Linked DNA regions of Homo sapiens. The protein of the gene in region 1 interacts with the protein of each later gene in a pairwise test. Each region holds a gene or a part of one and is shown on either strand. Other genes may lie near its edges.

Evidence for each region.
Region 2: the proteins of COL4A2 (region 1) and ATF7IP interact in a two-hybrid assay, tested with the Homo sapiens proteins (one large-scale study listed by IntAct).
Region 3: the proteins of COL4A2 (region 1) and ANXA7 interact in a two-hybrid assay, tested with the Homo sapiens proteins (one large-scale study listed by BioGRID and IntAct).

Annotation. Positions count from the first base shown.
Region 1 is NC_000013.11:110,506,280-110,509,933, forward strand, and holds part of COL4A2 (collagen alpha-2(IV) chain preproprotein), read left to right. Parts: intron 1-135; coding exon 136-327; intron 328-1,367; exon of another isoform or gene 1,368-1,472; intron 1,473-1,655; coding exon 1,656-1,942; intron 1,943-3,654. UniProt on the Homo sapiens protein: Type IV collagen is the major structural component of glomerular basement membranes (GBM), forming a 'chicken-wire' meshwork together with laminins, proteoglycans and entactin/nidogen.
Region 2 is NC_000012.12:14,421,085-14,424,738, forward strand, and holds part of ATF7IP (activating transcription factor 7-interacting protein 1), read left to right. Parts: intron 1-2,824; coding exon of another isoform or gene 2,825-2,831; coding exon 2,832-3,654. UniProt on the Homo sapiens protein: Recruiter that couples transcriptional factors to general transcription apparatus and thereby modulates transcription regulation and chromatin formation. Can both act as an activator or a repressor depending on the context.
Region 3 is NC_000010.11:73,396,962-73,400,615, forward strand, and holds part of ANXA7 (annexin A7), read right to left. Parts: intron 1,425-3,654; coding exon 1,220-1,424; intron 314-1,219; coding exon 203-313; intron 1-202. UniProt on the Homo sapiens protein: Calcium/phospholipid-binding protein which promotes membrane fusion and is involved in exocytosis.

The DNA.
Region 1 (3,654 bases):
CGGGCTGCAGGTGCACCAGGCCGTCCACTCTCTCTCTCTCTCTCAGGCTGTAGGTGCACCAGGCCGTCCACTCTCTCTCTTTCTCGGGCTGCAGGTGCACCAGGCCGTCCACTCTCTCTCTTTCTCGGGCTGCAGGTGCACCAGGCCGTCCAGGGAGCCCGGGCCTGCCGGGTATGCCAGGCCGCAGCGTCAGCATCGGCTACCTCCTGGTGAAGCACAGCCAGACGGACCAGGAGCCCATGTGCCCAGTGGGCATGAACAAACTCTGGAGTGGATACAGCCTGCTGTACTTCGAGGGCCAGGAGAAGGCGCACAACCAGGACCTGGGTAGGTACCTCCCACCCGGCCCCCGTTGCCTGCTCAGGGCTGGCCCGGAAGTGGCCAAGATCAAAGGGCCACAGCGAGACTCCCAAACCCTCCACGGCTGGTAAGTTCCCCTGACGGAAGGGTCCATCTACATTCCTCGAGTGCAGAAAGATTAAAACGGCCTTTGAAGCAGAAGCCTTACAAAGCCCTTAAACCTCAGGACCTTAACACAGGGACCTGCCTTTTAACCTGGTATTGACTTCCGCAGGCTCCCATGTGACCCGTCTGACCCCCGACCCCTCTCCAGTGGAGACCACCAATTACTTCACCTCCTTCTTGTTTTTGACCCAAGTTCTGTAGACTTGGAGTCAGGCAGGGGCCATGAGGGGCTGGGGTTCATGTAAGACTCTCCCATACAGCCCCCCGAGGAAAATGGACCCATGGACACGTGTGCATGCTCTTATTTAAGGAAGCCTTTGAAAGGCATTAACGCGACTTCGAATACAGAAAATGCAATACACACAAATTACAAGTGGAGGTAGCTTAGTCTGAGGTCCTCTTTGAGGGGGTGACGGGAAGGGTCTCTGGGATACTGGCTGTGTTCTGCCTCCTCGGTGCAGGTTACATCAGGCGTTCTGCCCCCGGGAAGCATGTTGCTGGCTCATGGTGCCTTCACATTCCTGCCTGTGCGCCCCGCCTCCACAATGAGTTTCTAAAGAACAACGGGGCAAAGGCCGCCAAGGATAAGGGCCAAAAATAGATCTAGGAACAGGGCCAAGGAGGCAGCCTAGCACCGGGCATGTTTGCTAAAGGTGGCTGCACTTCTGGGTCTGAGCTTTTCAGCAATCCATGTGAAGAGGGAAACCTGCTTAGCTGCAGCATTCGTTGTGGCCAGGAGATAAAGGCTATCTTAGTCTCCAGAAGCAATAAAGCTACATGGAAGGGAGAAGGGCCAGGACTCCTTCTGGGGTGGCTCCTTGGGGTCAAAGAGCGACCCCTTGGAGGCCATCAGAGTTTTCTTGGGGCCAGTGCTGTTAAGACCCCACTAAGGTAAGGCTCACCCAAAATGCTATTCCATGAAGACGCCACTCCCTGGTGATCCAACTTGGCCCAGTATGTGTGAGAACTTGTAGAAGAACAGAGCTGTTCCAAAATGCCAGTGGAGTCTGATCAAAAAGAGAAAAAGAAAGAAATTGGGAAGCCTTAGCCTGGCCCTCCAGTAGGTGGCTAAACTCCACCAGGTGCCCTGGGGCGAGTCCGTGACACACAGCCTCCTGGGCCTGGCTGGGGCTGGCAGGTGCGTCTTCTAGCCACACTGCACTGTGATCTCATGACCCCTCCTTCCACAGGGCTGGCGGGCTCCTGCCTGGCGCGGTTCAGCACCATGCCCTTCCTGTACTGCAACCCTGGTGATGTCTGCTACTATGCCAGCCGGAACGACAAGTCCTACTGGCTCTCTACCACTGCGCCGCTGCCCATGATGCCCGTGGCCGAGGACGAGATCAAGCCCTACATCAGCCGCTGTTCTGTGTGTGAGGCCCCGGCCATCGCCATCGCGGTCCACAGTCAGGATGTCTCCATCCCACACTGCCCAGCTGGGTGGCGGAGTTTGTGGATCGGATATTCCTTCCTCATGGTATGTGGTATTTGCCCAGTTCCCCTCCCCAACCACACCCTGCTGGGGACACAGCAAGAACAGCTGCCTTTGTGAGAAGAATCAGACACGGCAGTCCAGGGTGTGCACTGCACAAGGGTAGTTGGCCCAGGAAGCGAGCGAGAGCTGGAACACAGCTTACACTTGGCTAACTGAGCCACATGCTGGGCACAGGGCTTCCTCCACCCAGAAAGGGCTCATTAATTTGCCACCAGGCCTTTGTAAGGAGTGTAACCAGGACGAACTTGCCTGTTATCCGTCTTACTAGGTACAACACCAACACCAAAGGTGCAGCTGCTTTGGGTTTACCAGAAGTCTAAATATATGGGAGACTTTTCTCTAGAATCCTGATCTTATTTAGAATCTATCTGGAACCTAGAATACCCTGAAGAAATACCTATTAACTGGCTGGCTTAAAATGGATATATATTCGTGAGGAAAATTCTGGAATACCTTTGGGTATAAAATAGAGAGCCTGTGGATACTTTGAAAGCCAGGAGAAGGTGCACAACCAGGACCTGGGAAGGCACCGCCCACCCTTCCGGATCGCCTTTGGGTATAAAATAGAGAACCCTCAGCTTTGGCCAGATTAGGTTTAGCTTAACCTCCAGGGGAGAGACCACAGCACCATAGTGTCTCTTGCAATATTGCCTATTAAAGCAGAGGCTCCTCAACTTGGAATAGGGTCCCGTCCCGATAAATTCATTGTAAGATGAAGATACTATAAGTTGAAAGTGCGTTTTCAATTTATGATGGGTTTATCTGGATGTAACCCCACCAAAAATCAAATAGTGAATTGAATACATATTGCTTTTGCACCATCGAAAACTCAAAAATCCTAAGTCTAACCATGGTAAATCAGGGACCATCTGTATACTATTGTAGGGAGAAAAGAAAGTCTCACTGAGGACAGTGGGTCTTCCAGTGAGTTTATTTATATGCATTATAACTGTCATAACTCCAGCTATATGGATTGGATGCCCAGCATGTTAAATATTTCATAAATTATATATATATATATATATATATATACACACACACACACACACACACACACAACATAAAATATAAATTACATAGTGATTGCTAATCTTTCAAAACAACAGGAAAAAAAATCCGGATTCTAGGAAAGGAAGGAAAAGATAAACAAGTATTGGCATTTTAATAGGTATCGTTGCTATGATAAGTTGGAGCAACAGGATGCTAAATCCTGGGCAGGGACAGGCACAATTTCTACCTTTCCAGAAGCTTATCATGGAAGGTGACTTTGGAGCAACCTTCTTTTGTTTCACAGTGACCTTCAGGGTGCCCCTGTGTCAGGAAGTAAGCTTTGGTTGCTCCTGTTTTTTTCACTCCCGTTGTTAAATTCAAAATAAATGAGCCTCTCCCTTGTGAAGGGCATGATTACACAGTATCCAGAAAGGTCAGGCATCCCCTGTTCCATTAGCATCAGGTTTCAAATGACTGTCACGAGATAAGCAGACATTATCCTCTGCACACGTAACTCTCTGCTTACATAAATGGCTGACAGCCCCAGCAAGCCTGGAACTTGACATCCCCAAAAGGCATGGGTTGAGACGGCTCCTGGGTCAGGACAGATGGGCCAGAAGTACCTTGACTTCTGAGAACAGAAAGTCCCCATTGTCCCTGACAATGGATAAGTGAGCAGACACATCTGTGTACTGGAGATGTGC
Region 2 (3,654 bases), on another chromosome or scaffold:
AATGGTTACAGGAAACATCCTTGTTTTCTTCTGATCCTATTTCAATATCAGACATGATATCTCTAGTTTTCTTGGTAGATAACCTTTATCAGATTTGAGTAAGTTTCCTTGTATTCTTAGTTTCTGGCAAGTTGTAATTATGCATCAGTCTTGAATTTTGTCAAATGAATATTCTGTATTTGTTGAGGTAATCCTTTGTTGATTTTGTCCCTCTGTTCTGTTTATGTGGTGAATTAAATAGCTTGATTTGTTTTGTGGTTTTCTTTTTTGCTTAACAGAAGTTTATCGTCTCAGAGTTCTGGAGGCAACACATTTGAAATCACGGTGTTGTCATTGCCATTCTCCCTCTGAGGGTGCTGAGGGAAGGATCTGTTCCAGGCCTCTCTCCTAGCTTCTGGTAGTTGCTTGGCTTGTGGTACCATAACTTCAATTGTCACATGGCATTCTCCCAGTGTGCATGTCTGTCTGTGTCCAGATTTTCCCCTTTTTATAAGGACACCAATTGTATTGGATTAGGGCTCACTTTAGTACCCTTATATTACCTTGATTACCACTGTAAAGGCCCTATCCGAATAAGGTCACATTCTGAGGTACTGGGGCTTAAGACTAATATCTTTCTGGGGATGTGGGGTGTGGGATGCTGCACAATTCAGTCAGTAACATCCTGGTACCAGACATTCAGTTTAGGCAAAACTCGTAATTGTACACTCTGCTGGGCATGAAATAAAGTCAGAATGCATCATGGCTTGTTCATGGTCAACACTGCTTGATTTTTGAATGTGAAATCAGCCTTGTATTTTTCTAAGCGAGCTTCACTTGGTCAGAATTCATTACCTTTTTAAGAAACCTACTTCTAAATAAGTCATAGATGAAAGAAGAAATCATGATGGAAATTAGAAAATATTTTAACAGAATAATGTAAATGACACATTAAAATGTGAGATGCAACTAAAGCAGCTCTTAGAGGGAAATTTATAGCTTTATATGCACACATTACAAAAGAAGAAAGATTGAAAATAACACTTAAGCTTGAATCTCAAGGAAAAGGATGACATGTTAAGCTCTTTCCAAGAAAAAGTAAGTGAAAAGAGATAATAAATATTAGAGTAAATAATTAAAACAAGAAAGCAGATATAAAACCAAGAAATATCAGCCAAGTAAAGGTTCATACTTTAATAAGTGAATAGAATTGATAAAACTGTAGCACAACTTACCAAAAAAAGAGAATACACACACACACACACACACACACACACACACACACACACACACAACCTTTGTATTTATTTTGAAATTTTTTTGTAGTGGCATTACTGAGATAAAACCACATATCTACTATTCACCCACTTAAAGTACAATTCAGTTATTTTTAGTATATTCACAGAGCTGTATAATCATCACCATAATCAATGTTAGAACATTTTCATAACCCTGTAAAGAAATCCTGTACCCTTTAGCAGCTACTCCTCATTTTCTCCAGAATCTTCCAACCCTAGGTAGTCACTGATTTACTTTCTGTCTCTAGATTTGCCTACTCTGGACATTTCATATAAATTGAATCATTCAGTATGTGGCCTTTTGTGACTGGCTTCTCTCACTCAGCATATTTTTAAGGTTTATGCATGTAGTAGCATGTTCAGTACTTCATTCCCCTTTGTGGTTGAATGATATTCTGTTGTAGGGGTATGGCACATTTTATTTATCCATTCATCAGTTATGGAACATTTAGGTTGTTTCCAGTTTTGGGCCATTATGAGTAGTGCCTCTATAGAGCATTTGTGTACAAGTTTTTGTGTGGACATATGTTTTCATTTCTCTTGGGAAATGAATGGAATGGAATCACTGGGTCATATGACAACTCTGTACTTCACATATTGTGGAACTGCCTGTTTTCCAAAGCAGCTGCACCTATTTGCAATCCCACTATCATTGTATGAAAGTTCCAGTTTTTTCACATCCTTGCCAACACTCATTATTCTCGTTGATTGTAGCCGTCCTGTCGTGTGTGCAGTGTTATTTCATTGTGGTTTTGACTTGCGTTTCCCTGATGTCTCATGATGTTTATTGCTTATGGACTTTTGGCTTAGGGGTCTCTTTCTGGAAATGTCTGTTCAAGTCCTTTGACCATTTTTAAATTGGGTGATTTATTATTGAATTATAGCAGTTCTTAGATATTCTAGATATAAAAGTCTGTATTCTATATAAATATATATTCTGTATTCTAGATATGAAATTCTAGATTCGAGATAAAAGTCTTATCAGGCATATGATTTGCAAATATTTTCTCCCATTGTTGTGAATTTTCTTTCTTGATGGTAATCTTTTGTTAATATGTTTATAGTTCTGCCAATCTAAGTATGCTTGGTTGCAAATGTAATCTTTCCTTACATGTTTCTTAATTCTTCCTCCTTTTTCCTTTATCTCTATACCTGTTATTTCCCTACTGTTGTTCTTACACTTTTATTTTTCTTTCTCATTTTCTTCAGGTACTTTTTTTTTTTTTTTTTTTTTTTTACTTTATCTACCTTTTTTTTGCTTAAACATCTCCATACTCTGTGAATTCCATATTGGAAAAAAAAACTTGTCCCTTTTCCCCCTAATACTTTCTAGTTGATTTTCTAGTAGACTATGGCCATTTTTGATTTTGTATTACACAGATGCAGTAAATATGATAATTAGTATACAACAAGCAGTAGGTTTTCTATGTCTTAAACATTACATGAAATGTGCTGCTTGCATCTCTTCTAAGATCAATTTGTATTAAGTCTACAATTAGGTGGCTTCTGTTTCAGTTATTAAACTCTCTTTCTCTTTTTTCTTAAAGATTCAGAATGGACAGTTTAGAAGAACCTCAGAAAAAAGTCTTTAAGGCTCGAAAAACGATGAGAGTGAGTGATCGTCAGCAACTTGAAGCAGTGTACAAGGTCAAAGAAGAACTGTTGAAAACTGATGTCAAGCTGTTAAATGGCAACCATGAAAATGGAGATTTGGACCCAACCTCACCTTTGGAAAACATGGATTACATTAAAGACAAGGAAGAGGTGAATGGCATTGAAGAGATTTGTTTTGATCCTGAAGGAAGTAAAGCAGAATGGAAGGAAACACCCTGTATCCTAAGTGTTAATGTAAAAAACAAGCAGGATGATGATTTAAATTGTGAACCTTTGTCTCCCCATAATATAACTCCAGAACCAGTCTCTAAACTGCCTGCTGAACCAGTTTCTGGTGATCCAGCCCCTGGTGATCTGGATGCCGGAGATCCAGCCTCCGGAGTACTGGCCTCTGGTGATTCCACCTCTGGTGATCCCACCTCTAGCGAGCCCTCCTCTAGTGATGCTGCCTCTGGTGATGCAACCTCTGGTGATGCCCCTTCTGGTGATGTGTCCCCTGGTGATGCCACCTCTGGTGATGCCACTGCTGATGATCTCTCCTCTGGTGATCCCACCTCTAGTGATCCCATCCCAGGTGAACCGGTCCCTGTTGAACCCATTTCTGGTGATTGTGCCGCTGATGATATAGCCTCTAGTGAAATAACTTCTGTTGATCTGGCTTCTGGAGCACCAGCTTCCACTGATCCAGCCTCTGATGATCTGGCCTCTGGTGATCTATCCTCTAGTGAACTGGCCTCTGATGATCTGGCCACTGGTGAACTGG
Region 3 (3,654 bases), on another chromosome or scaffold:
AAAGTGTGACTTTATCTCTATTTTACTGATTAAACTTTTCCATCAATTTAATATATTTCATAAAACCATTATGTTTAAAATTATTTATGGAAATATAAACATTTATTGCAGATTATCTCAAATATAAACTAAGTTCCCTCAATGGTGATTTAAAAACTCAAAATATCATGATACTGTTTTTTTCTGGACAGCTGGTACCTACCAGGTAGTGGAACCTGTGCTGGACCACCTCCATAAGACTGTGAAGGTGGCTGTGGATACCCAGAAAAGCCTGCTCCACCTGGTGGGACTCCAAATCCTTGGCCTGGAGGAACTAGAGAAAAGAACATGTCAATAAACTATAGTACAGTTCTCATGATTGCAGAAAAAACTTTAGAAAAATATCTATTGTTAACAGTGGAAAAATATGCTATTAATGCTATAATAGCAGTCCCTGTTTATCTAGATTCAAAACTTCAAATTCTCCAGTAAAAAATAAGTTTTTAAATTTTTACCTTATATATTTATTTATTTTTTGAGACAGTCTCACTCTGTTGCCTAGGCTGGAGTTTAGTGGCACAATCTTGGCTCACTGCAAACTCTACCTACCACGTTCAAGTGATTTTCCTGCCTCAGCCTCCCAGGTAGGTGGGATTACAGGCATGCACCACCACACCCAGCTAATTTTCATATTTTTAGTAGAGACAGGGTTTCACCATGTTGGCCAAGCTGGTCTCGAACTCCTTGCTTCAAGTGATCCACCCACCTCAACCTCCCAAAGTGTCGGGATTACAGGTGTGAGACACCACACCCAGCCAAAATATTACTTTATTACTCTTCCCTACTAACTTAAAATACAAAAGGGCTAAGGTTTTTTTGTTGTTTTTTGGGGTCTTTTTTACCTTTGAATAAAGCTGACCTAAAGGTCACAGTCTTGCTAATTGAAATGTCTTAATCAGGTCTTAAGACTACAAACAAGCAAAGTGTTACATATTGGTCCTTTATTGCCATGAAATTTATTCCAAGTCCCTTCACAGTGGAATTTTTGAAACTGCTCCCAGCTTTCATGTCCCCAGAGAATCTTCATCCCTCCATCTTGCCAGCTAGGTCCTTACTACCTAAGGTTACCTAAGAGCGACTTGACCTTATACAAAACAAGCAGGAATGAAGAGGATAAAGGGAGAAGGAAAAAGTGCTACAGCAATCCCAATCATTACTAATTCCGCAACCCGTAACTCACCTCCGGGATAGGATGGAGCTCCCCCTGGCTGTGGGGCACCAGGATAGCCTCCAGGGGCTGGATAACCTCCAGGCGCAGGGTAGCCTCCAGCTCCTGGGTAGCCACTACTTGGCACTTGTGGGTAGGCACCTCCTCCCATTGGAGGAAAGCCACTAGGATAAGGATACTGACCAGAAGGGGGAAAAGATGACTCCTGACCTGCAGGCTGAAAAATCAGAATAATTTTTAAACAAATACGATCATAGAGAAATATGACCCATCTAAAAATAAGGAACAAACAGAGGTTATTATTAAGGTCTACCTCATTCTTTTACTTTTTAAAAGTCCCATTAGAAATCCTGGTATCTTATACTAGTTTATCAGTATACCAGTTTGTAAGGACACTTGTTTGTCAGAATTCAGTTAAATTTAATTCTACTTGAGTCAGGCAAGAGGGGTCTGCTTCTCTATTTGGGAGTCAGAACAGGATTCTTTACAAACCTCAAGGTTTTAAGAAAAAAAAAAAACTCATCAGTTCCTTCATTTTCCCAGCATCTACAAATATGAGAAAGATCCTCCTCTATATCCTAAACAGAGGAATTTGAGGCTTTCTTGCAACACATCTGGATCTGTTACATAATATTTAAAAATAAAAAAGGTAACCTGTATATCACATCACACACCGGATGTGACATTTTGGACTTCATGGTTCAGAGCAGCAATATGCAGAGTGGCAGAGATTGTTGCATGTTCACTGAACTCTTTCTCCCCAGGCCACAAAGCTATACAGACTACACTTCCCAGACCCCCTTGCAGTTAGGTCGAACCACATGAATGAATATCAGTAAATGAACATAGACAAAAGTGAGATACACCACTTTCTAAACCTGTCCCCTAAAAACCTCTGGCAAATCCTCCATGCTCTCTCTCTTCCTTCATCTGCCACCCATAAGCAGAGGATCCAGTGGAGGACTCCAAAGTGCTAAAGGATGGTAGGATCAGAATAAGGAAGGAGCCTGGAAACCCAAAACACTGCATGAAACAAAGCCTCGTCCCACCCACCCCCTATCCTCCACTGACGTCCAGGAAACTGAAGAAAGAAATACATTTGTTTTTTCATCGTGTTAAGTCACTGAGATTTGGGAGTTGTCTGTTTTAGCAATTAGCCTACACTGACTGAAATAGTTACTACAGTCCTGTTTAATACATAGGGACTTGGGAACATATCCATAATTCTCATCTCTCCTATGATAAATTCACGAGAGCTATATAATCACTTTGCATAAGGATACATATTATCATAAACTTGTATAGACCCCTCTTCCTATTCTCCCAGGGTTAGATAGCAGCCCCACAGTTATGAGTATAAAACCAAAATGTGGGCTGGGCTAAGTGGCTCATGCCTGTAATCCCAGCGCTTTGGGAGGCCGAGGTGGGCGGATCACGAGGTCAGGAGATTGAGGCCATCCTGGCCAACATTGTGAAACCCCATCTCTACTAAAAATACAAAACCTAGCTGGGCGTGGTGGCACGTACCTGTAATCCCAGCTACTCAGGAGGCTGAGGCAGGAGAATCGCTTGAACCCCAGGAGACGGAGGTTGCAGTGAGTCGAGATCACACCACTGCACTCTAGCCTGGTGACAGAGCGAGACTCCATCTCAAAAACAAAAACAAAAACAAAAACAAAAAACTGAAATGTGGCCAGGCGCAATGGCTCATGCCTATAATCCCAGCACTTTGGGAGGCCAAGGAGGGCAGATCATTTGAGGTCAGGAGTTTGAGACAAGCCTGGCCAACATGGTGAAATTCCGTCTCTACTAAAAATACAAAAAATCAGCCAGGCACAGTGGCGGGCACCTGAAATCCTAGCTACTCGGGAGGCTGAGGCAGGAGAATCACTTGAACCCAGGAGGCATAAGTTGCAGTGAGCTGAGATCACACCACTGCACTCCAGCCTGGGCGCACAGCGAGACTCCATCTCAAAAACACAAACAAACAAACAAACAAAAACTGAAACGCACAATTCTTACTTATGGCTCAGCTCTTAGTCCTCAGAGTAGTATAGCTATCAACAAGGTGGAACTTAGTAGCACATTTATAAAACGTACTCCAAGTCTAAGAACTACAAATCCACTGCAATTTATCTCTGGGTCTAGCCAAGCCGTTAATTATTTTAAACATTCTAACACAAAGGTTAAGATGCAGTGATATTATGACTCAAGGGCATTAAAAAAAAGAAAAAGAACCAGTGATTCATGGGATGGATTTTGCTTACATCCATGTTTTACTGGCTCATACAGCAGTTAACATTTTTTAAAACTAACTCCTAAATTTTGAACCTTTGGGCAATTTCACATAGAACCCAAGTTTCTGGCTTTACTTGAAGGGCTGGAGTATCTAGCAACGCTGAGTGTGCCTCCCTCCATGGCTACACAGGGCTGGTGCTAAGCACCTG